Regions from separate parts of the Homo sapiens genome. Here all the other regions are linked to region 2. Evidence: fine-mapped expression QTL. A gene starts in region 2. Each other region holds a variant in brackets. All regions are shown on one strand. Distances are between the middles of the regions.

Region 1 (5,109 bases), 67 kb after region 2:
CAGCATCTCAGGGATCTCCTTTTTAAATCTTTTCTTGACAGTTTGTCCCTTTCCTGATTATCTAATCATGTACACTGCGATCGTAGCGATTGTAAGTCTTCCACAAGGCCAAGATGGCTGAGTCACCATTTTGAATTTATGTTCAAAGCAGCCATAAGGACACACACACACACACACACAGACACACACACACTCCTTTAGTCAAGATATATTGATTAAAACTCTTCTTATTTGTTGCATGAACTGTACAGTCTTCAGTTCCTTTGTGTCCAGACTATTTTAACTATAACTATATTTAAGAGTGTTAGTGTCTAATTTAGGCTGATGTGTAGTCAAGCAGCTATATTGAAATCATGCAGCTTCTTGTTTAGAAAATGTATATCATCAAAACTCTGATGACTCTAGTTTTCTTTTTTCCTATTTTTAATTCTATGGTTCAGGGCCACCTTCTCTATTTCTATTCTGTTTTACAATATTAACGGTTCCTCCAATGTAAACATTTGTTCATTTTTTGACAGAATTTGCATATTCTCCAATTGCACATTTTAGTATCTAACAGGAACTTTTCCCCAAACAGATTCAGTTCTTTCCTGTTTTGAATTAATGGCATGTTTGTGAGCTGAGATGTAATGATGTATGCATGACGCATGAAAGAGAGGTATACAGAGTCATTGTTAACAGCAAGGACTCTCAGAATCTGCAGCCTGAATTCAAATCCTGCCTCTGTCCCACCCAGTTTTACCTCATTGAGCAAGTTACTTTACCTGAGACTTTGTGTTCTGATATTTAAAGTCGGGTAGTTATGATAACTATATCATAGAGTTATCAAGCACTTAATACAGGATTTGGAACATAGTAAGCTCAAAATAAATGTTAGCTTAAAAAGTAAAAGCATAATGGAACTGTAAAGCTGATACATACAATCACGCATCACTTAATGATGAGAACACATTCTGAGAAATGCAGTTAGGTGATTTCATCATTGTTCAAACATCATAGAGTGTGCTTACACAAACCTAGATGGTATAGCTTACTACAGGCCTAGGCTATATGGTAGAGCCTATTGCTTCTAGGCTACAAGCTTGTACAGCATATTACTGAATACTGTAGGCAATTGTAACAGGATGGAATTTGTGTATCTAAATATAGAAAAGATAAAATAAAAATACTGTATTTAATCTTATGGAACTACCATCTTATATGTTGTCCATCATTGACTGAAATTTGTTATGTGGTGCAAGACTGTAAATGCACATATTAGATCTAATATTATCAGTACTGAGCAAAAAATTGTGGTTAGCTATTTCAAAATTCATTTCTTAATGAATTTTATTCCTTGACATCAATTGATTTACCATTCATTCCCACCCTTTATCATTGTGCACAGCACACTGTGCATACCAACATAACCCTGGTGGTTACATTGAATTATTGTCAGCTTCCATCCACTCCAGCATTGGGCCGTTACTCTTCCATTGAGACCATTACCATTACCATTTAAATAATAACATCTTGAACTCTTCCCTCCCTACCATGATGAGATACCCAGCATCTCTCTCATGAAAATGCCTCTGTGGTCCTCTCTTGCTTCTGTTTTTACCTCCCCTGAGTTGGTTGTACTCATATCTTATCCTCTGTTCCTGATCTCTTCTCTCCACTCAAGCCAGCCCCAAATGGTACAGTCCTTTTCCCTTCATTTCCTGCAAACACTATTCACATAAGACATTTGTATGTATTAGACTTTTTATTTTTTGAGGATTTGGAAGGATTTGCTGTATTATTGAAAAATGGGTTAGATTATCTAAAATTGGATATTTCACATTTTTCTTCATAAGAGTTTCTCTTCTCACTACAGGGAATTTCTCAACAGCTTACTTTATTCCTGAATCTCCTGATTTCCTGCTTTGGGGATGTCCCACTCCCTCCAAAGACTCCCTATTCGTTAATGTCCTGCTCACACAGGGCCCAGAGCTCAACCTTTCTCTAACTCTATTATGCAAAACAATTCTGTTTTCTCTATGTCTATTTTAGCGCATTTGTCCATGTCCTGAGGGCTTTCGTTTTGAACAAACATTTTCTTTCTAAGCAACTGCTGCCAGCTTTAAAATAATATTCTCTCTCTACCCTTAACTCAAAGATAAATAAGCTATAAATTTTGCTTTTGTAGCCACAGTTGATTTTCAACAGAGTGATCATTTTAAATTGTGAGTCAGTTGCTTCAGCCCCCTGCCATGGCTTCCAAACTCAGAGCAACAGCCAAGCTCTTTGCAATGTCTGCAGGACTTCAAGGACCTGCTTGGTCATCTCTCTGACTCTATATTTTCATACTCTCCTCCTCTCTCATTTTCCTTCAACAGCTCCAGCCTCTTTGTTATGCCTTGAACCCAAAGCCTATCAGCCACATATTCATCAAACATCTTTCTACCTCAGGGCCTTCGTACTTGTTATTCCTTCCCCATGGAAACCTCTTCACTCAGATATCAAATAATTTCAAACTTCACTGCCTTTGAGTTATATTCTGATGGACATTTATAAAATAGCCAGAATTTAAAAATCTCTCTTTCTTTGAGAAATCACAGCTTTCCATATTACACATTTACTTACATATTTGATTATTGTCTACATCCATCCACTAGAAGGTAAGCTCCGTGAGGCCAGGGACTTTGTCTCTTCTGTTTACTGCCATATCTTGGCAATATATCAGGCACATAGGAGTTGCTCAATACACTTTTGATGATTGAATCAATACACGCAGAAATAATGGTAGACATTAGGTGCTTGAGGGGCACAAAGAGGTGAGTTGTGTTTGGAGGGATCGGGGAAAACTTCATAGAGAAGGAAAAATAAACTAGATGAACAAGAAGCCAGGATAAGGAGAGCTTTCATGAGACAGAGGAAGCATGATGCATAAAGGCATGAAAGAATGAGGTGCTTTTAGGAATCAAAAGACTTTTAATATTGCCAAACTCTAAGCTCTCTGTGTGTACAAAAGGCAGCCTTGCTCCAAGTATTGGCCACAAACCTGGTGCACTGGTGCAGATTTGTGGATAAGGTAATGAAGCTTCAGGGCCTCTCAATTGCATAATCTGATGAGAGGCTCTATTGATGTGTTTAG[G/A]AGGTTATGTTTTTGAAAAATTTGCCACAGTAAGATATTTTAATCACGATTGGCTAAAAGAGCTGTCTCTTTCCACTCTGACTCACCTCTGTTACACTTCTCATGTGAGGTAGTGTTGGAATGGTCACAGGCAATTTTGGGAACGTGACCTGGGATTCTTTTAATTTGATTTTAGTGGAATCTTACGTGGTTCATAGTCACTTCCGTGCATAGTTAAATTTTCGCTGGTATCGCTGAATAACTTCCACAAAAGCTATCACTCATTGCATCAACTCACTGACATCAAGAAATGAAGATGTAGGGCCTGGAATCATACTGTGATAAGAATGTGTCCATGGTGTCAATACCAGAAGGAAGAGAGTGAGGAGGAACAAGTGAGAAATGTTCAGGGCCAGAAATTTGCCTGCAGGACATTCTTCAACATATTCTAGTTCATAGATAAAAGAAATCTGGTTCATAGATACAAGAAAGACAATTTTTTCTCAATTTGAAAACAATCTTAGCAATCTATATGTATCATGTACTAGAAGCCTAAAAGAACTCCTTAGCTTGCCCAAATTAAAATCTTGACAAGTGGCTGAAATCTAAATTCAGCCTTGGGCCTCTGTGGCTCTTACGTTTTCCCTTGCCCCACCATGTTTATCTCTGTCCATGCTGAGTCACCCCAAACCTCCAGACATGGATCAAATGATAAATCAGGTAGCTCGATGATACAACCTGGTCTGTGGAGACTTGCAGCCCAGCAGGATGGAATTTGGTCAATGAGAAGTGGGAGGAAGAAGGAAACCAAGCCTATAAATTCCCTCTCCTTTTTTCTTTCCTATAAGGTATGGCTTTTTCTTGCAACCATTCAGAAAGTCCTCCTTGCTGAACTAGCGCACTGCTGAGAGATGTGATGTGTTTCTTTGCAGTTTGTTTAAAATGCTGGCCAGCAGGGCCATGTAGCATGCGTTTCAAGTCTTTCCTTGCCCCGCTGCTTTTTTTTGGTTCATCTTCACCTTTCCTACCTTGTACCTTCTAACTTAAGTGTCAGCACTTCAATCCTTGCTCAGGCTCTTGCCCATGGCAATCCAACTGAGAAGTTACAAAGAATGAACTGTGGCAGTACCAGTAAGAAAGGGAAAGACATGAACGATGTAAGGCAAGTTAATTGAAAAGAATCCAGTGATCAAGTTAATATCGTAGGAAGAGAAGGTAGGATGAATTGACGATTCCTAGGTTTCTGGCTTGGGCTTTGAGTGAATCATGGTGCTGAACAGGTAATACAGTACAATGGGTTTTAAGATAAATAATAAATTTGGTTTCAGACTTGTCGAATTTTATTTGTCCTGGATAAAGAAGTAATAGTTGGAGAGGACTTAACTCTGGAATAGACAAAATAGACAATAAAATGAAAAGTGAAGTTGGTTAACCCTTACGGAAGGCAAATGTAGGCATAATTATAGGCCAAATATGTAAAAAATTAGGAAAGCAAAATTTTCACAGGAGGGAGTGGACAACTGTGACAAATGGCATAGAGATTTCATGAAATGGGAAGCTTACAAAGCAACAAGATGTCAGAAGTGATAATTAGGACTTAATAATAGGGATGTCACAAGTGGTCTTGTGAGAGGAGGTCCTTTGAAGTGGCCTGCAGGGAAGCCAGACAGATGGGATTCAGGAGTGAAAGACCACCTGCACTGCAAGAACCGTTCATTTGCTTTCTCAGTTGATGCTCCTGGGCTGCTGAGCATAAACCTGTGCAGAGGAGACCCTGATGATTGATATTGCAGATTCCTGTTGTCTAATAAAATGGTCCATCACTTTTGATCAGCAATCTATTTATCCATTTCTGATTAACTCCTGTTAAGTTTCCTCCTAAAAAGTATTATAAATTTTTGTCCTCAATCTCAGTAAGATACAAACTTACATGATGGCAGCAACACTCCATTGATACACAATTATGGTTACCAATCATCCCTGTTTGCCCTGGACTAAGGGGTTTCCTGGGAAGT
Region 2 (5,109 bases):
TACGCTAAGTGTTAAATGAAAATCACTTACAAACCTTCTACTTTTGTAATCAAATTGCAGGACAAATTTAATGTGCACAGTTTTGTCAGTGTGTTTAGTCCTTCAATTCTACTTATTTGATTAGATGACAGATCTAGATGTTGTAAATTCCAAATATGATCAATGGCTTCGATCTTGGAGATGTTATTGCAATGAAGATTGACGGCATGAAGAGTTGAATCTAAAGATAATTCTGATATGCTATAAAAGAAAATATATACTATAAAAATAGATTTTAAAAGCATGACCAAATAACTAAAATTAACCAAACAGCACGTAGATACTAAATATGTGCTCTATTCATTCTAGAATGAAATCTTTCCTATTTGTGGTACCTTTGAAATGTCTCACAAAACACGGTGCTTCTTACAACACAACCAAGTATTTTGGATTATTTATACAAACAAGAAACCGCTCAAGGCAGGCAAGTGACAGTGGGCATTTCTAACTCCTGTGTGCAGTCATCAGCATATATTGAAGGCAGTGCTGAATAGTAGTCAATAACTGTAAAGGCTTTGGAATGTTAATATCCCAGTTTGAATCTGCATTCTATCACGGTTTTGCTGTGTGATTTGAGCAAATGACAACCTGAGCCTCAGTTTTCTTACCTCAATTAATTCTCACAATAACTCTAAGCAGTGGGTATCTTAAGGATACCTAAATTTATGGAAATTAAATAGCTTGCCCAAATTCTTGCAGCTAACAGAGCATATGTAAATCCAGATCTCATGCTGGAGATTATAACTTTATTTTCTTCTTTGTGTGCAATAGCTATTTAATCCACAGTCTATTGCATTTTCAAAAACAAACCATGTTATTGCAATTCCTATTGAAAAAGTCCCTGTCCTCCCTTGTTGAAAGTTAATGGATCTCCCCTAAACAGAACTCATCTCTTCACTCCAATTACTATTTATAACTGAAGCTTCTCCTGAAGATAGTAGTTCCAGGAACACAAACTACAGCATACACAGTTTGGAGTTGCTAGATGGGAGATACACCCAGGAACACACAATGTCACGGGCATCTGCTGTAGGTTGAGTAGCAGCTATCTTACAGCTGTAGGAAACCTAACTCTGACAGCAGGGAAGCATTTGCAAATTTCAAACTAGCAACCTTTAAATGTGACTATCTGGGGCATTTCCCACTTATCCTGCTGTGTCATTTACTTGAGTTCTTATTTAGTGCCAGACCTTATGCTGTTAACACATGCTCTTAATGACAGTCATTTACTTTCTGACACATTTCAGTTTCTCGACATTAATAATGTGCAGATAATGTGAGATAGAAAAAGCATAGTGAAATTAGACGGAAAATGGGTTTGAATCCGAACTTAATTCTTCATGAAGTGTATAAAGATGAACAAATTGTCAATAGATTCTGAGTCTCATTCATCACTTGTAAATGAGAAAAATTACTACCTTGTAGAATTGCTGTGAGGATTACTGATAATGTATATAACATGCACACAACAGATAGCATTCAGTAAATGGCAGCTAGTATTAAATAGAAATGTAAAATGTCCCTTGAACAGCATCTTCTTGGGATCATCTGGCAAAGTTTAAATCAGAATCCAGAACAAGATGCTTAATTATCAGTAGCAGAGTTCGCGTAGAGGACACGCTACAAAGGAACAGCATGTGCAAAGGCACAGAGAAGTCTGCTATGGAATTGCCTGTAGCTCAGTACAGGTAAATAAAGTGTAAGTGGAGAAATGTTACGGGTCGAGACTAAAGAGCCTGAAATGCAGGTGGAGACCTGCTTTACAGTATTACAGAACCAAGTGCCTCATATGCTTTGCACAAGTCAGGGCTTCAAGAGAGAGGGAAACGATGAACTAAATATAGTAAGTTTAGTACTTTCAAAAAGTATATGAATATATGTATTGCAATGTTCTGTAACGGACAAATGATTTCGAATGCAGACAAGGAGAACTGAGGCAAAACTAACAGGCAGCAGCGACTGCCCGCTCATAGCTGCCAGAGATACTATCCTGCAGGTTTTTTTCAGAGGTAAGAACAGGAAAGACGAGAGAACACGAGAAAACCAGCAATTAAACGGCAAGCAAAGGAATAACCACCAGTAAGTAAGGAAAACCAGCAGAAGGAAAGAGTGGTCAGAAGCTGGTGGAGGACAAGGTCCTGGGGCAGTTTCTAGGCTAAGCAGAGTCGTGTGAAACGCTGGGCAGGAGACACGGGCGGGAAGGCATCCACGGCTCATTCAACCTGGCACTTCGGCAGGTAAGTTTTGGAGGAGCGGGGAGGCCGAAAGCCAGACTGCGTTCACTTATGGTCTTGGTAAAGCAGTGCCGCGCCTCCACTCTGGTGTCGCCGCCAGCCACTCGTGGCCCCGGCTCTGGGGAGTGCGCGGGTCGCTCCTGGCTGCGGAGCGCCCTTTACCTCTGCAAGCCTTTGTCCATGAAGCATACATCCCCGCAGCTGCTGTCGCCGTCTTCGTTTTCCACTTCCGCCTCTGCCGCCACCACCGCCGCCGCCGCCTCCATAGCACTGGCGACGGGGAGCGGGGTCTTAACCGGCACCCAGCGAGGGGTCCGTGAGCTTGGGACAAGCCTCCCGGAAGCGCGGAAGGGCGGCCCGAGGGGGCGGGGCGGGGCGAGGACCCACCCTCCAACCGACAGCCGGGAACTTTCCCGCCTTGACGGTGACGCAAAACTGGAATCCTCGTCCCAACTGTGGGCTTCTTTCGTTTTTACAGCATCTGCGGTGCGACTCTTGAACTTGCTGTAAAGTAAAACTGCTTCCCGGGCGTGTAGGAGCTGGAGAATGAATGGATTTGTCCTGTGTGCTTCTGTATATTTGCCTAGTAGCCGACTGACTTCTGAAGGCGGTTTTCACAGCGGTTTGGCTTTACGTGCCTTTACATAGCCTTACATACGTATAAATTGTTCCTCTGGCCATTGCACCTCCTGTTGATTCATTGAACAATTTGTGGGATGCCTTACTGTATGTCAGTCACTTCCCTGTATGAGGAAGAAAAAGATGAAGCCTATTCTTGTTCCTGGAAACATTCGCAGCCCCATAGAGGAAACAGAATTGCCATACAGTATGACGAATGCTAAGAATAACACAAGGGCATCGAAACCAACTCTAGAGTGATATGGGTAGTGGGTACGTTTTCTAAAAGAAGTGATTGATGACTGAATAGAGTCTTGCTGGGTTAGGGGGAGTTCTGGATGAATGGCATTACAGGTGGGAAAGCAATACCTGTGTGAGGTCAAATAACCCTCCTGGCTAGATTGCTTCCTAAGGCATAGTAATATTTTAAAACGGAGCAAATGGTGCAGTAGTCCATTTGAAGTGGACTATTTCCTTTTGAAATAACTCATATAGACAAAAATAAAAAAGATGTTTTAAAAAATGAGCAAAACCCACATGACATGTAGGACACCATAAAGTGACCAAATATTCAAAATTTTGGAGTCTCAGAAGGCAAAGAGAAAACAATAGAGTTGGAAAAATGGTTCAACAAAATACTATATGAAAACTTCCCAAGTCTAGCAAGAGATTTAGACACCCAGGCACAGGAGGCCAAAGGTTCCCAAACAGATACAATGCAAAAAGGTTTTCTTTTAAAAAAAATTTCATCTCACTTTTTATTTTAGATTCGGGGGTACATGTGCAGGTTTGTTACATAAGTATATTGCACGATGCTGAGGTTGTGGCTTCTAATGATCCTGTAACCCAAATAGTAAATATAGCGCTTGATAGGTAGTTATTCAACTCTTGCCTTCCCCCTTTTGGAGTCCCCAGTGTCTATTGTTCCCATCTTTGTGTTCATGTGTATCCAGTGTTTAGCTGCCACTTGGAAGTGAGAACATATGGTATTTGGTTTTCTGTTTCTGTGTTAATTCACTTAGGATAATGACCTTCAGCTGCATCCATATTGCTGCAAAGGACATGATTTTGTTCTTTTTTATGGCTGCATGTTGGTGTATATGTGCCACATTTTCTTTATCCAGTCTATCATTGATGGGCATCAGGGCTCATTCCATGCCTTTGCTACTGTGCTGCAATAAACATATGAATGCGGGTGTCTTTTTGGTAAAACAATTTATTTTTCTTTGGCTAGATACCTGGTCATGGGATTCCTGGATTGAACGGTAATTCTATTTTTAGTTCTTTGTGAAATCTCCAAACTGCTTTCCACAGTGGCTGCAATTTGCATTCCCACTGATGGTGTGTAAGCATTACTTTTTCTCTGCAACCTCACTAACATCTCATATTTTCTGACTTTTTAATAAAACCCACTCTGACTGCTGTGAGATGATATCTTATTATAGTTTTGATTTACATCTCTCTGATTATTAGTGATGTTGAGCATTTAAAAATATGTTTCTTGGCTGCTTGCATGTCTTCTTTCGCAAAAAAGAAAAGAAAAGAAAAAGTCTCCTTTATGGCCCATTGTAGTCAAACTGATAAAAGTCAAAGACAAAGAATTCTAAAAACAGCAAGAGAAAAACATCTAGTCATTTATAAGGGAACCCTCAACAAACTAACAGTGGATTTCTCACCAAAAACTTTACAAGCCGGCAGAGAATGGTATGATAAATTCAAAGTGCTGAAAGAAAAAACAGCCAGCCAAGTACTCAACAAAGTTATCCTTCATAAACCAAGGAAAAATAAAGTCTTTCCAAGATAAGCAAAAGCAAAAGAATTCATCACCAGTCGACTGGACCTATAAAAATGCTCATGAGAGTCTTACATATGGAAACAAAAGGACAATATTTACCAGCATGAAAACACACAAAAATATAAAGTCCACTGGTAGATCAAACACACAAGAAAGAGAAAGGACTCAAATGTTACCATTACAGAAAACCACCAAACCACAATCATAAACAATGATAGAGAAGGAAAGGAACAAGGAATACACAAAAATAACCAGAAATGGATTAATAAAATGACAGGAATAAGCCCTCACGTATCAATCATGACCTTATGCAAATGGAATAAATTTTCCACCTGGAAGATATAGCTTGAATTAATGGATTAAAAAATGACCCAACAATAGTCTGCTTAGAAGAAACTCATCACACTTGTAAAGACACATATG
Region 3 (5,109 bases), 93 kb before region 2:
TCAAGACAGAAGTCTTTACACTCTTAAAATCAAGCACTAAAATCCTTAAAAATTTTAAACACCATACTTCTTGCTTAGAAAATTTATTGACAAGAACAACCAAATTACAAAAATTCTCAATCTTCCCTACAGTGTTTTTTTGTCATCTGGAAGGCCAGACTGGTTGGTGACTGGGTACCAAAAGAGTGTGCTCAGCAGTCACACCTAGCAGTCTCAGGATGTGACTGAGGTGCTGGTAAAATAAATTACAACATTTTAATGTTTTGGTGGAATTTTGGCGAAAACAAAACAAGACAAAAACTATGGTCAAAGGGGACACATTAGAAGAACAGAAATTGTTACATTCAAACGTATAACCAGGCCACAATTAATGACAACATGCGTTTCAATTAATTACTATTTACAAAGTACAAATTCCTATGAAAGTAGTTCTTGCTCTCAAGGACAGGTAAAGAGTTAGGAAGAGATTAATACAAGACAGTATGCAATGTGTGCCAAATGAGTAATAGCTTGAGGGAGAAAGTAAGATTTGAATTTTAAGAGCGAAAACCCAATATCCAAGAGAGCAAGGGAACACCCAACACAGGAGTGACACAGAGGCCCAGAAAGGTGTGTTCAGGGAAAGCTGAGGGGCCTGACTGAAATAGAGGATTTGGGAGATAGAAACATTGGGAAGGTCAAATTTTACAGAGCACTGAGAAGAAAAAAGGTTTCAGAAGAGGGTGCTGGTTTGTAACTTACTTCCACTGGATACTGTTTTTTGACTTTTTTTCAATCAAGTCAATTCCCTCTAAGACATTGGTGATATCATAAATTCTCCTTTTTTGCCTCACAGCCAAAGTATCAGCAGCCTGTTCAGGAAAGACAACGAGAACAGTGAAATAAAGGGCAAGTCATATTTTAAAGCCAAAAAGGGTTGATTATTAAATCCACAACAAGTCCAATCTCAAATTTGACCCACTCAGTTGCTTGGGGACAATAGCTGAGCATGTTCAAAGCATCTCCCAAACACTGCAAATACCAAAGAAATTATTCCATTTAAAAGCTAGCAGATGTTGGAACAGAAAAAGAAATTAAGGTCATGACACAAAGCCTGCAAAAATAAAAGAACACAATAAGAATACTTTGTGTCACCTTATGGACTAATCCTGAGGAGGAGCTACTAATTGCCTATCCATGTCACCTCCTATCTTATTTCTCTGTTCATAAACAGTCTCATCTAAAGATGCATTACTTATTTTTTAAAATTTTAAAGAATTACATCTCAGCAATTTATTTTGGTAATTAAGACACTTGGAAATTCTGAACTATATGCACACTTATAATACCTTGAAATAAATATCTACATTTTTAAATTAATAACGAAAACAGAGGAATGAATCATGCCATCCTAACACAAAGCATAAAATCAGCAAGAAATCAGAATCAATAGCTCAAGATTGCACTAGCAACTATTATACAAAAACTTGGTAGCTGCATTCACATTAGATAAGATCAACAAAACAATATATGCTATCATGTTATGAATTCAACAAACAATTCCTCTGATTAGTTCCAATTCACATTTTTGATGTGTGTTCCCAAAAGAACAAAGAGAACCTCAAAGAAGTTTTCAGAGTGGATTAGACAATAGCCTATTTTGAATGTGGAGCCACATTTTAAGATCCATGGTAGTTACAAATATTTGTGTCTCTACTGACAATTTTCAGCACATTATCTAAAATATCTAAATGAACAGGATTTAGCTTCACATAATTGCTAACAGCTCTCCCAGCTTCGCATAATTGCTAACAGCTCTCCCAGAGAGCATCACTACTTTCTTGATTCTGTGAAAACCTAGCTCAGCACAGTGTTTGCAATCTGGACCTGCCTTCCCCCCAGAGAAGGTGCCACTGACAGCTATATTCACTGTACAGGCATTTGGGATCTTAAGAGAAATGTCAGTTCTCTCAGACACATTTTTTTGTATGTGCCACCAAAACCCCCAGGTTACTGCTGTCCCATCATTCAGGTCTTCCTCAAGAAGGGGATTCATGCCTCAGTGGACCAGGAGAATAAGCAGGATGTGGCAGAAGAAGGAAAAGCAGGAGAGTGGGGCTCTTTGTTCCCCAACTCTAACTTGGCACTGTCCCTTCTAGAGAACCAGAAAATTAACAGCAGGACTAGCCATGGTTTGTTTCATTGATACCTTCTTCCCTTGTACTTAGCAATTCCCTTCTTGTTTTATCGACCTTCACAGAATTTTTACTCTTGACTTCGAGGCTGTTTTTATGAAGAGCAATACACGACTGCAAAGTTAACGGTACAAATCTGAAGCTGAGGTTTCATTTCTCACTTTCCTCTCTCTAGAGAAGTAACTCAGAGAACTCCAAGCCATGGCTCTGTGTTACTGGTATCTATGTACTCACACAGAAAAGCATTCACAGCCATAGCAACAGCACTCTGGTTTTGGTATCAGAACATGTTTGTATGAACCAGACCACAAGATCTAGCTTAGGTCATTAGGCAAAGTGCCATGAGATTTAATTTTTAGCTCAAAGTTTTAAAAAGGTGTCTTGTTTATCATTTATATTTATTACTGCTTAACAATCACAACATTTAACCCCTAGTTTCTAAAACTAAACATTATTTCTCAAATACTTTACTATTTAAGTATGTAAACATATAAATGACTAACATGTACAGATCATATGTAAAAGAATCTCCAGGAGGGTTTTATTTTAGAAAGTCCCATCATTCTTTTTTTTTTTTGAGACAGAGTCTCCCTCTCTTGCCGAAGCTGGAGTGCAGTGGTGTGATCTTGGCTCACTGCAACCTCCA[C/T]CACCTGGGTTCAACTGATTCTCCTGCCTCAGCCTCCCAAGTAGCTGGGACTACAGGTGTGTACCACCACGACTGGCTAATTTTTGTATTTTTAGTAGAGACGAGGTTTCACCATGTTGGCCAGGCTGGTCTTGAGCTCCTGACCCCAGATGATCCACCCACCTCGACCTCCCAAAGTGCTGAGATTACAAGTGTGAGCCATGGCACCCAGCCAGTCCCATCATTCTTAAGAAGTTCTGAAGCTAAACACACTGAGATCCAGTCCCAGGGCTGCCACTTCCTATCTTCAGCTGGCCTCATCGTAAGCTCACTAAGCCTCATTTCCTTTTTCATAAAATGGTATAACATATACTGAAAGGAGTATTGTGGGAATTAAACTGGATAATCTTACCGCAATGTCTACTGTATAGTGATTACTTAAATGTTGGCTAGTCAGCCTCATCATCAAATACAGGTTGAAACGGATCGTGGGTAAGACTGTGTTTAAGATTGGTTAAAGTTTGTGTGTATACAGATTTACCTTGTTTTATATAGTGTTTGAAAAAGTTGTGTGTGAATTCTTTAAAAACTAATTTGGGGCTTTAATATCTAACAGAATAATACCATGAATCTCCACCACCACCACCACCACCACTATCACCACTACCTTCCTCCATTCATTTAACACCAAAATGTTCCAGGCTTGGTTCTGGGTCTTAAAGATATAGATGTGACAGAACAAAGTCCCTGCCCTCAAAGAAGAGAGGGAAGTTAATAATATACAAATAATTATGTTTGGAGAGAATGCAGGCAAGAGGAAGGTGCTATATCAAATAGGATTTTCAGGGAAAGAGCTCTCTGACAAGGTGACATCTGAACATTTGAATGGAGTAGGAGACCCCTGTGAATGTTTGGTGGTAGAGCATTCTGGGCAGAGGAAGCAGCAAGCACGAAGGTTCTGAAGTGTGAGGGGTGCTTAGCTTCTTCAAGGAGAGGCAGGCAGGCCAGTGTGGCAGAATAATGAGAGGGAAAATGGAAAAAGGAGATAAAGACAGGAAAGGAGACCAACAAGATGGCGATGGCAATAATCCATGCAGGAGATGGTAGTGGCTTGGATGGAGGGGTAGCTATGAAGATGGTGAAAAATGTTAACATTCTGGATATATTTTGAAGGTATGGCAAGCAGCAGGTCCCTAGAGAGGAATCAGAAATGACTTCAGTTTTTGATAAGAGCAATTACAAATAAGGTATACTACAGAAGGAACCAGTTTGGAGCACTGGAAATAAAGAAACTGGCCTTGAACCTTCTGACATCCACAGGGAGAAAGCAAGACCACTGGACACGAGAGTGTGTGCTTAGGGGAGAGATCCAAGCTAGAGATATAAATTCAGTAGTCTTCAGCGAATAGACAGTTTATACCACAAGATGGAATCCACTAGTTTGACATAGGAGGTGAGCATATAAGGGAAGGTTAAGAACCAACTCTGGGGAAGTTTAAGGTCCAGGAAATGAGGGAGCAACCTGCCACTGAAGTCAGAAGAAAATCAGAAAGTGTGGGGTCTTGGAATCCAAGGGAAGAGAGTGTAAGAAAGTGTGACCATATCAAGTATTGCTGTCAGAGCAAGTTAGTGAGAACTGATCAGTGATTTGCCTTTGGAAAGATCATGGGTGACTTTGATCAGAGCTGTTTTGGCAGAGAGGTGGGGCTGAAAGTCTTAATGGAGAAATTTCAAGAAAGAATGGAAAGAAAGCTAGAATAGACAACTCTTGAAGAGTTCTGCTGCAAAGAGGTAAGAAGAAATGGGGCAATATTTTTAGGGAACTGTGGGGTCTCCAGGAAGTTTTTTTTTTTCCTTTTAAAGATGGGAGCTATTTCAACATGTGAGTATGCTGATAGGAATGATCTGGTAAAGAAAGAGGAATCATTAACAATGCAGAAGAGAGAAGGGATGACTGCTAGAGGTGGCAATAAGTAGGGAAGGCAGGATGTGAATTCAATAAGTGAGGACTGTCCTTAGATAATAACAGGGCATATTAATAACTGAAGTCCAGCAGAGTACCTGGGTACAGATATAGGTACATTAGTAGACCAGGTAGGGAGAAAGGTTAGACATTTCCTTCTGGTTGATTTTTATTCTCTCATCAGCACTGGGATCGGGGAGAAAGGAAAGGAGCTATTAATGGTTGAGAGGAGAGAAGAAAGTACAAAATATTCATATAAAAAAGCAAGACAATAGGTAGCATGGAAGGAACGCTGGACAGCACTACTGGCCCCTTTGTAGTTGGTGATCATGAATTTAAAGTGAGAC
Region 4 (5,109 bases), 140 kb before region 2:
GGTCCCTCCTTACTTGGCATTTCCTCCGAAAAGTTGAAAATACCATGTATTTATTTGTCTTTATGCATTTTTTACAATGCTTTGATGAAAATGTACTACTTAGGCCAGTGTGGTGGCTCCCAGCACTTTGGGAGACCGAGGCGGGCAGATCCCTTGAGCCCAGTAGTTCAAGATCAGCCTGGGCAATATGGCAAAACCTTTTCTCTATGAAAAATACAAAAATTAGCTGGGCATGGGAGCACATGCCTGTGGTCCCAGCTACTCAGGAGGCTGAGGCAGGAGGATTGCTTGAGCCCAGGAGGTCAAGGCTGCAGTGAGCCATGATTGCACCACTGCACTCCAGCCTAGGCAATGGAGCGAGACCTTGTCTCAAAAAAATAAATAAATAAATAAATAAATAAGAAAAAAAGGCTGGGCGCAGTGGCTCACGCCTGTAATCCCAGCACTTTGGGAGGCCGAGGCGGGCGGATCACCTGAGGTCGGGAGTTCGAAACCAGCCTGATTAACATGGAGAAACCCTGTCTCTACTAAAAATACAAAATTAGCCAGGCATGGTGGCACATGCCTGTAATCCCAGCTACTTGGGAGGCGGAGGCAGGAGAATCGCTTGAACCCGGAAGGCAGAGGTTGCGGTGAGCCGAGACTGTGCCATTGCACTCCAGCCTGGGCAACAAGAGTGAAACTCTGTCTCAAAAAAAAAAAGAAAAGAAAAAAAAACTTACTACTTTTATGAATTTGACAAATATGAAGAAGAAATGTGGTTGGGCTTATAATTTTTGCTAACAATAAGGCTTTACATAAATACAAGATATTACTACTAATCTAAATCTGGGCTCAATTAATAAGTAAAAACTTTCTTTCAATTAAGGATTTTTAAAAATTAACTATATTTTTTCATTAATAGAGCAAATACAGCATCATCCTGATCTTAGATTAAAAATAAAAACAATCTGTCAGAGGCCCTAAAAAGTGTTTCCAAATATGATTCTCTCTAATATTTTATCTCATCTTACATTTAAACTTGATACCTTGGGCAGAATCTCTGCTTGGGCAGTAGATAGTCTGAAGAAGGATTAAACATTCACTTCAAGAAAATGTTTTTTCATCACTTATTTAATAAATTAACAAATAATCTATAAGTCCATTATTTATTCATGGTGTGAAAGACACTATCCCAAGAACTAATCATTAAACGAAATGATTACGTGTTCTAGAAAAAAGTACTAATAGGGAATATACAGTAAAAAAGTTTCATATATTTATTTTTTTAAAAAAATTAAACTTCTACTTTCCCTCCCTTCAATGTCCATTGTTAGGAGAATGGTACATAAATTACGATACAAGCATAGCTAATACAATTCAACTTTTAAAATTATTTTACTTTTATTTTTATCTTTTGAGACAGGATCTTGCTCTGTCACCCAGGCTGAGTACAGTGGCACTATCATGGCTCATTGCAGCCTTGACCTCCTGAAGTCAAGCAATCCTCCTGCCTCAGCCTCCAGAGTAGCTGGGAGTAAAGGCACACCCCACCATGCCTGATTAATTTTTTATTTTTTGTAGAGATAAGTTCTCACTATGTTGCCCAAGCTGGTCTTGAACTCCTAGACATAAGCAATCCTCCCACCTCAGCCTCCCAAAGTGCTGGGATTATACATGTGAGCCACCACACCCGGCTGCAGTTTAGCTTTTTAAACAAGATATATTTTAATCTGGAAAGATGTCTATAAAATATTTTTAAACAAGAAAAAAATTCAGAGTTATATAGCATTATTCCAAATGTATTTTTAATAAGAAAATGCAAAACAAGGATGATACACATGTATGTATACATAACTAAGCACCGAAATATTATGGAAGAAATAACATTAGTTACTTCAGGAGAGACTGTGGGAAGAAAGAGACATTAATATTTGTTATATGTTTCCATATTGTTTCATTTACTATGAGTGGATATTACTTTGGCAATTAAAATAAGAGAATAAGTTTTTTTTAAACTAAACTTTTTCTATTAAAGCAGGTACTTAAATGGCATTATAGGTTTGCAAATAATGCTAAAATAATTACGGCTAAAACTTTGCAGAAACAAATCATGAAATATCTATAAAAACTATTAAACTTTAATATTTTTATAATGGTAAATGCTAAGTGAAGTTATAATAACAAGCTAAGGTCAATTTTAAATTATCATGCAACATATCCTTTTCCAAATACTCTTTATTATTTTAAGGTAAGATTATCTGAAGGTTCAAATATATAACAAGATATCTTAATTCACACGAAGAAAAATATGCTTCAATTTGACAAATTCCAGGTCTAGCAAAAACAAAACATGAAAGATTAGAGAGTGTATTCTGGGTGCGGTGGCTCACGCCTGTAATCCCAGCACTTTGGGAGGCCGAGGCAGGCGGATCACGAGGTCAGGAGATCAAGACCATCCTGGCCAACATGGTGAAACCCTGTCTCTACTAAAAATACAAAAAAAGTAGCTGGGTATAGTGGCGTGCGCCTGTAATCCCAGTTACTCGGGAGGCTGAGGCAGGAGAATCTCTTGAACTTAGGAGGCGGAGGTTGCAATAAGCCAAGATCGCGCCA[C/T]TACACTTCAGCCTGGCGACAGAGCGAGACTCTGTCTCAAAAAAAAAAAAAAAAAAAGAGTATAGTCTAATCATTCAAACCCTTCATCCACCACCACACACACAAAAAAAGAAAAGCCAACCTGATTTGTTCTCTGTGTCATCAAAGTCAACATTGAAGGAATGGCCGCTGTTGCTGATGATTTTAGCTGAGCTTGGGTCATACTTGATACTAAGTGGTCGGAGGGAAGAGTCATATTTCACTTCTTTGGTTTTAATCTCAATTGGAGATTGCTGATCACCATCAGCAATAGGGAAAAATTCCTTCCAGTGAATAGGACCTTAAATATATAGGACCAAAAGAAAAGGATTAAATAAGTTCTTTCTTTCAACAAACATACATTGAGTATAACACACTGTGCTTGAAATTGAAGAAAACGCAAAGATTAATAAAATGAGATTCTCGTCCTCAGGACCTTGGCATCTAATTGTTTTTTTTTACAAGATTAGTTGTTTTTATTATAGATGTGGGAAACTCTTGGTGTGCCTTAAGTCATGTTCAGAATTAAAGTAACCCTTGTAGACAAGAGTCTGTAAATTTTATAAAATACTCTCCAAAGGTAACCTTCTACCAAACTAAAAACAATAATACAACTCATCATTGAAAACAATGACATTCAGTCTCAGCTCCAAAAATGAGCTATTGCTCCAGAGTTCAAGTTTGCAGATTGGAAGAGTCAAAAAAGCTGAGAAAGCCATGAAGCAAAGAAAGGGTGTCATTCTTAAAGATGCTGTGCTTACTTCTTTATTCTTCCTTCTATCACTCAATGCTATCGTCTAGTGTCACTCAGGCCTCCACTCAATTACCTGTGATGTGCAACAGGCATACCAAGGAAACACACAAATTTTTCACCTAGGATAATCCAAATAAAATGGCTGCACCACGTCAGGAAACGTAATATTGTTGATTATCTGCAGTAGAGTCAGATTGTAATTTATTTCTCTCTTTCTTCATTTCAGAAGGTTCTTCTATGGTTATTTTGCCAATGTTACATTTGAATTTCAACACAAGAGAAAGGTATCATCCTGGTCCTCTACTCAAAAACGTCAAAATCGTATCAAGTTCACAAATCAGACATGTTAGGGAAATTGAAACGAGCCAATCAGCTAACAGTTCCCTTTTCAATCCTCTTCACTTCTTTGGAAGACTCTATAAAGTCTTGCCTCTCAAAATCAGCAGCAAAGCTGTAGTTTCACGTAAGTTCCATGTCATTCTACAGATGTGAGTCACTTTATAGGTTATAGGTTCTTATTCTCTCTACTATTCCTGAAATTTATACAGCTATCACCACCTACACTGGGCTACTGACTAAGGTTTACCCACCTACTTTGCTAACCAATCTTTCACTAAAAATCAAGTACTAATTAAAACATCATAGCATGACAATTAATTAAACCTGTTACTAACGACAACCAAAAACATTTTAAAATGATAAAATTTAGAGTAATATTTAAAGAAATGCAATATATCACAATCATCAACAAACTTTAAAGCATAAAATTCTAAATCTTTTTTTTTTTTTTTTGAGACAGGGTCTTGCTCTGTTACCCAGGCTGGAATGCAGAGGTGTAATCTCAGCTCACTGCAGCCTCAACTTCCCAAACTCAAACAATCCTTCCACCTCAGCCTCCCAAGTAGCTAAGAGTACAGGTGTGCACCACCACACCCAGCTACTTTTATAAAAAACTTTTTTTTGTTGAAAGTCTCACTACAGGCTGGTCTCAAACTCATGGGCTCAAGTGATCCGCATGTCTCAGCTTCCTGAAGTGTTGGGATTACAGGCATGAGCCACCACGCCTGGCCCAAACTCTAAATCTGATACTGCTTACTATGCCTCATTTTTGCAAAAGAGAACTCACACATACATACATTCTTTCATATATGCTTCAGGCACAAAAAGTCATAGCATAAATATATAACTATACACTCAGCTTAAAAGATGTCATCTGACAAACTGGACTTCAAAGCCACTTGAGCATCAGAAGTCCTTGCTTAGAATGTATTACAGAAAAAGCCTTTTTTATTCAATACTTTCACCATCTTTCTGAGTACTTTTTCTATATATAACCTAGACTTTTTTCCCCCTTAATTCAGAAAAAGCCTTCTATTTCACTGCCACCAAGTAAGAGTTAACCTAACGAAAATTCAATTTCAAATGCGCAATGCATGTGTTACAATATGCAGGTGACATTCTTCCAATCAATAGAGTTGCTTTCTTCTCCTAATTGCTTTGCTCTCCTATTTCCAGTCATTTATAAACAGAACTATTTTAAAAAGAAGTCAAACCAAAATAAAATAAAAGTAATAATTGTTTGTATCACATTCCCAATATTATCTACTAACTACCATAGTCAGTTCAGTACCCTGCCTCTTAAAGAGGTCCCCTTTTTCAATTTTTCCAAAAAAAATTTCCTCCTCTCCTCCTTCTCCTTGTCCCCCCCATGACCCTGCAGGCTAGTCTGGAACTCCTGGCCT
Region 5 (5,109 bases), 50 kb before region 2:
AATCAATCTACTTTCTGTCTCTATAAATTTGCCTATTCTGGACATTTGCATATTGCAGGTTGTATCAGTATTCATTTCTTTTTATTGCCAAATAATATTCCATTGTATGGATATACCACATTTTATTTATCCATTCATCACATGATGGATATTTGGATTGTTTCCACCTTTTGGATCTTTTGAATAATGCTCTTGTTAACATTTGCGTACAGGTTTTTGGGTGGACAAAATTTTCATTTCTCCTGAGTATGTAACTAGGGATGGAATTACTGGATTATATAACAACTCTATGTTTAACCTTCTGCTGAACTGCCAGAATGTTTTCCAAAGTGGCTGCACCATTGTATATTCCCACTAGCAGTGTATGAGGATTCCTATTACTACATCATTGTCAACACTTACTATTGCCTTTTATTTATTTATTTATTTTCATTTTGTTTTATATAATTTTTTTGAGACAGAGTCTCACTCTGTCACCCAGGCTGGAGTGCAGTGGCGCAGTCTTGGCTCACTGCAACCTCTGCCTCCCGGGTTCAAGCAATTATCATGCTTCAGCCTCCTGAGTAGCTGGGACTATAGGTGTGCATCACCACGCCCAGCTAATTTTTGTGTTTTTAGTAGAGAGGGGGTTTCATCATGTTGGCCAGGCTGATCTGGAACTCCTGACCTCAAGTGATCTGCCCACCTTGACCTCCCAAAGTGCTAAGATTACAGGTGTGAGCCACCACACCCAGACCAGTTGATTTTTTTATATGGTGTCAGGAAAGGGTACAGTTTCACTCTTCTGCATATGGCTAACTAGTTATCCCAGCACCATTTATTGAATAGGGAGTCCTTTCCTCATTGCTTGTTTCTGTTAACTTTGTCAAAGATCAGATGGTTGTAGGTGTGCAGAATTATTCCTGGGCTCTATATTCTGTTCCATTGGCCTATATGTCTGTTTTTATACAAGTATTATGCTGTTTTGGTTACTGTAGCTTTGTAATATAGTTTGAAGTCAGGTAATGTGATGCCTCTAGCTTTGTTATTTTTGCTTAGGATTGCCTTGGATATTTGGGCTCTTGGTTCCATATGAATTTTAAAATAGCCTTTTTAAATTCTGTGAAGAATACATTGGTAGTTTAATAGGAATAACATTGAATCTATAAATTGCTTTGGGCAGTATAACTGTTTTGACATTATTGATTCTTCCCATCCATGTACATGGAATGTTTTTCCATTTGTTTGTGTCATCTCTGATTTCTTAGAAGAGTGTTTTGTAATTCTCATTATAGAGATGTTTCACCTCCCTGATTAGCTGTATTCCTAGGCAGTTCATTCTTTTTGTGGCTATTGTGAATGGGATTGCATTCTTAATTTGGCTCTCAGCTTGGATGTTGTTGGTGTATAGCAATGCTACTGATTTTTGTACATTGATTTTGTATCCTGAAACTTTGGTGAAGTATCAGATTAAGAAGCTTTTGGGCAGAGACTATAGGGTTTTCTAGGTAAAGAATCATATCATCTTCAAACAGGGATAGTTTGACTTCCTCCATTCCTATTTGGATGCCCTTTATTTCTTTCTCTTGTTTGATTGCTGTGGCTAGCACTTCCAGTACTATGTTGAATAGAAGTGGTGAGAGAGGGTGTCCTTGTTTTGTTCCGATTTTCAAGGGGAATGTTTCCAGGTTTTGCCCATTCAATATGATGTTGGCTGTGGGTTTGTCATAGATGGCTCTCATTATTTTGAAGTATGTTCCTTCAATGTCTAGTTTGTTGAGGGCTTTTACTGATGGGAAGTTGAATTTTATCGAATCTGGGTGCTCCTGTATTGTAGGCAAATATATTTAGGATTGTTAGGTCTTATTGAACTGAACTTTACACCATCATGTATCGTCATTGTCCTTTTTGATCTTTGCTGGTTTAAAGTCTGTTTTGTCTGAAATTATGATAACAACACTTGGTTCTTTTCTGTTTTCCATTTGCTTGGTAGATTTTTCTCTGTCCTTTTGTGAGCCTATGGGTGTCATTGCATGTAAGATGGGGGTCTTGAAGATAGCATACTGATGGGTCTTTCTTCTTTATCCAAGTTGCCACTCTGTGCCTTTTTTAAAAAAAATTATTACACTTTAAGTTCTAGGGTACATGTGCACAATGTGCAGGTTTGTTACATAGGTATACATGTGCCATGTTAGTTTGCTGCACCTATCAACTCGACACTTACATTAGGTATTTCTCCTAATGCTATCCCTCTCCCAGGCCCCCACTCCCCAATAGGCCCTGGTGTGTGATGTTCCCCAGCCTGTGTCCATGTATTCTCATTGCTCAACTCCCACATATGAGTGAGAACATGTGGTGTTTGG[T/C]TTTCTGTCTTTGTGATAGTTTGCTGAGAATGATGGTTTCCAGCTTCATCCATGTACCTGCAAAGGACATGAACTCATCCTTTTTATGGCTGCATAGTATTCCATGGTGTATATGTGCCACATATTCTTAATCCAGTCTATCATTGATGGACATTTGGGTTGGTTCCAAGTCTTTGCTATTGTGAATAGTGCCGCAGCAAACATACGTGTGCATGTGTCTTTATCATAGAATGATTTATACTCCTTTGGGTATATAGCCAGTAATAGGATTGCTGGGTCAAATGGTATTTCTAGTTCTAGATCCTTGAGGAATTGCCACACTGTCTTCCACAATGGTTGAACTCATTTACACTCCTACCAACAGTGTAAAAGCCTTCCTATTCCTCCACATCCTCTCCAGCATCTATTGTTTCCTGACTTTTTAATGATCACCATTGTAACTGCTGTGAGATGGTATCTCATTGTGGTTTGATTTGCATTTCTTTAATGACCAGTGAAGATGAGCATTTTTTCATATGTTTGTTGGCTGCATAAATGTCCTCTTTTGAGAAGTGTCTGTTCATATCCTTTGCCCACTTTTTGATGGGGTTGTTTTTTCTTGTAAATTCGTCTAAGTTCTTTGTAGATCCTGGATATGAGCCCTTTGTCATATGGTAGATTGCAAAGATTTTCTCCAATTCTGTAGGCTGCCTGTTCATTCTGATGATAGTTTCCTTTGCTGTGCAGAAGCTCTTTAGTTTAATTAGATCCCATGTGTCAATTTTGGCTTTTGTTGCCATTGCTATTGGTATTTTAGTCATGAAGTCTTTGCCCATGTGTATGTCCTGAATGGTATTGCCTAGGTTTTCTTCTAGGGTTTTATGGTGTTAGGTCTTACATTTAAGTCTTCAATCCACCTTGAGTTAATTTTTGTATATGGTGTAAGGAAGGGATCCAGTTTTAGCTTTCTACATATGGCTAGCCAGATTTCCCAGCACCATTTATTAAATAGGGAATCCTTTCCCCATTTCTGGTTTTTGTCAGGTTTGTCAAAGATCAGATAGTTGTAGATGTGTGGTGTTATTTCTGAGGCCTCTGTTCTGTTCCATTGGTCTATATATCTGTTTTGGTACCAGTACCATGCTGTTTTGGTTCCTGTAGCCTTGTAGTATAGTTTGAAGTCAGGTAGTCTGATGCCTCCAGCTTTGTCCTTTTTGCTTAGGATTGTCTTGGCAATGCGGGCTCTTTTTTGGTTCCATATGAACTTTAGCTTTTCCCAATTCTGTGAAGAAAGTCAATGGTAGCTTGATGGCGACAGCATTCAATCTATAAATTACCTTGCGCAGTATGGCCATTTTCACAATATTGATTCTTCCTTTCCATGAGCATGGAATGTTCTTCCATTTGTTTGTGTCCTCTTTTATTTTGTTGAGCAGTGGTTTATAGTTCTCCTTGAAGAGGTCCTTCACATCCCTTGTAAGTTGTATTCCTAGGTATTTTATTCTCTTAGTGGCAATTGTGAGTGGGAATTCACTCATGATTTGGTGCTCTGTTTGTCTATTATTGGTGTATAGGAATGCTTGTGATTTTTGCACATTGACTTTGTATCCTGAGACTTCGCTGAAGTTGCTTATCAGCTTAAGGAGATTTTGGCTGAGATGATGGGGTTTTATAAATATATAATCATGTCATCTGCAAACAGAGACTATTTGACTTCCTCTTTTCCTAATTGAATGCCCTTTATTTCTTTCTCCTGTCTGATTGCCCTGGCCGGAAGTTCCAACACTATGTTGAATAGGAGTGGTGAGAGAGGGCATCCCTGTCTTGTGCCAGTTCGCAAAGGGAATGCTTCTAGTTTTTGCCCATTCAGTATGATATTGGCTGTGGGTTTGTCATAGATAGCTCTTATTATTTTGAGATATGTCCCATCAATACCTAATTTATTGAGACTTTTTAGCATGAAGGGCTGTTGAATTTTGTCGAAGGCCTTTTCTGCATCTATTGAGATAATCATGTGGTTTTTGTCGTTGGTTCTGTTTATGTGATGGATTACGTTTATTGATTTGCATATGTTGTACCAGTCTTGCATCCCATGGATGAAGCCAACTTGATTGTGGTGGATAAGCTTTCTGATGTGCTGCTGGATTCAGTTTGCCAGTACTTTATTGGGGATTTTCACATTGATGTTCATCAGGGATATTGGCCTAAAATTCTCTTTTTTTGTTGTGTCTCTACCAGGCTTTGATATCAGGATGATTCTAGCCTCATAAAATGTGTTAGGGACAATTCCCTCTTTTAATAGAGATTGAAATTGTTTCAGAAGGAATGGTACCAGCTCTTCTTCGTACCTCTGGTAGAATTTGGCTGTGAATCCATCTGGTCCTGGACTTTTTTTTGGTTGGTAGGCTAGTAATTATTGCCTCACTTTCAGAACTTGTTATTGGTCTATTCAGAGATTCAACTTCTTCTTGATTAGGCTTGGGAGGGTGTATGTGTCCAGGAATTTATCCATTTCTTCTAGATTTTCTAGTTTATTTGCATAGAGGTGTTTATACTATAATCTCTGATGGTAGTTTGTATTTCTGTGGGATCAGTGGTGATATCCCCTTTATTTTTTATTGTGTCTATTTGGTTCTTCTCTCTTTTCTTCTTTGTTAGTCTCGCTAGCAGTCTATTTTGTTGATCTTTTCAAAAAATCAACTCCTGGATTCATTGATTTTTTGAAGGTTTTTTTGTTTCTCTAACTCCGTCAGTTCTGCTGTGATCTTAGTTATTTCTTGCCTTCTGC

Which allele goes with the higher level. Alleles are on the strand shown, and positions count from the first base shown. SD is a standard deviation of normalised expression in the study named. Not every link is listed here.
In carriers of allele T in region 3, the expression in prefrontal cortex of the gene that starts at base 2,597 in region 2 tends to be higher than with C alone (small effect, 0.39 SD a copy in GTEx).

The links. PIP is the estimated chance that this variant, and not a neighbour inherited with it, causes the effect.
Region 1: its variant is the best candidate, but not a certain one, in a credible set for the expression of LRRCC1 in whole blood (INTERVAL, PIP 0.55).
Region 3: its variant is the best candidate, but not a certain one, in a credible set for the expression of LRRCC1 in prefrontal cortex (GTEx, PIP 0.65).
Region 4: its variant is the best candidate, but not a certain one, in a credible set for the expression of LRRCC1 in left ventricle (GTEx, PIP 0.70).
Region 5: its variant is the best candidate, but not a certain one, in a credible set for the expression of LRRCC1 in blood mononuclear cells (TOPMed, PIP 0.67).

Annotation. Positions count from the first base shown.
Region 1 is chr8:85,037,301-85,042,409 of GRCh38, reverse strand. No RefSeq gene overlaps it. Among named protein-coding and RNA genes, the nearest start is that of LRRCC1, 67 kb to the left of the region's middle. The variant G/A (reference allele first, on the strand shown) is at 3,116.
Region 2 is chr8:85,104,726-85,109,834 of GRCh38, reverse strand. It overlaps LRRCC1 (leucine rich repeat and coiled-coil centrosomal protein 1), which reads right to left and starts at 2,597. Exons shown (of 19, transcript NM_033402.5): 1 at 2,436-2,597; 2 at 35-240. The coding sequence starts at 2,539. LOC105375933 (a long non-coding RNA gene) reads left to right here and starts at 1,973. Exons shown (of 3, transcript XR_929117.3): 1 at 1,973-2,276. RefSeq lists an enhancer at 2,426-2,485.
Region 3 is chr8:85,197,889-85,202,997 of GRCh38, reverse strand. E2F5 (E2F transcription factor 5) reads right to left here. Exons shown (of 8, transcript NM_001951.4): 2 at 742-851. Among named protein-coding and RNA genes, the nearest start is that of RBIS, 20 kb to the left of the region's middle. RefSeq lists a silencer at 2,339-2,398. The variant C/T (reference allele first, on the strand shown) is at 2,821.
Region 4 is chr8:85,248,545-85,253,653 of GRCh38, reverse strand. CA13 (carbonic anhydrase 13) reads right to left here. Exons shown (of 7, transcript NM_198584.3): 2 at 2,717-2,914. Among named protein-coding and RNA genes, the nearest start is that of CA13, 5.6 kb to the right of the region's middle. The variant C/T (reference allele first, on the strand shown) is at 2,596.
Region 5 is chr8:85,154,404-85,159,512 of GRCh38, reverse strand. No RefSeq gene overlaps it. Among named protein-coding and RNA genes, the nearest start is that of E2F5-DT, 20 kb to the left of the region's middle. The variant T/C (reference allele first, on the strand shown) is at 2,343.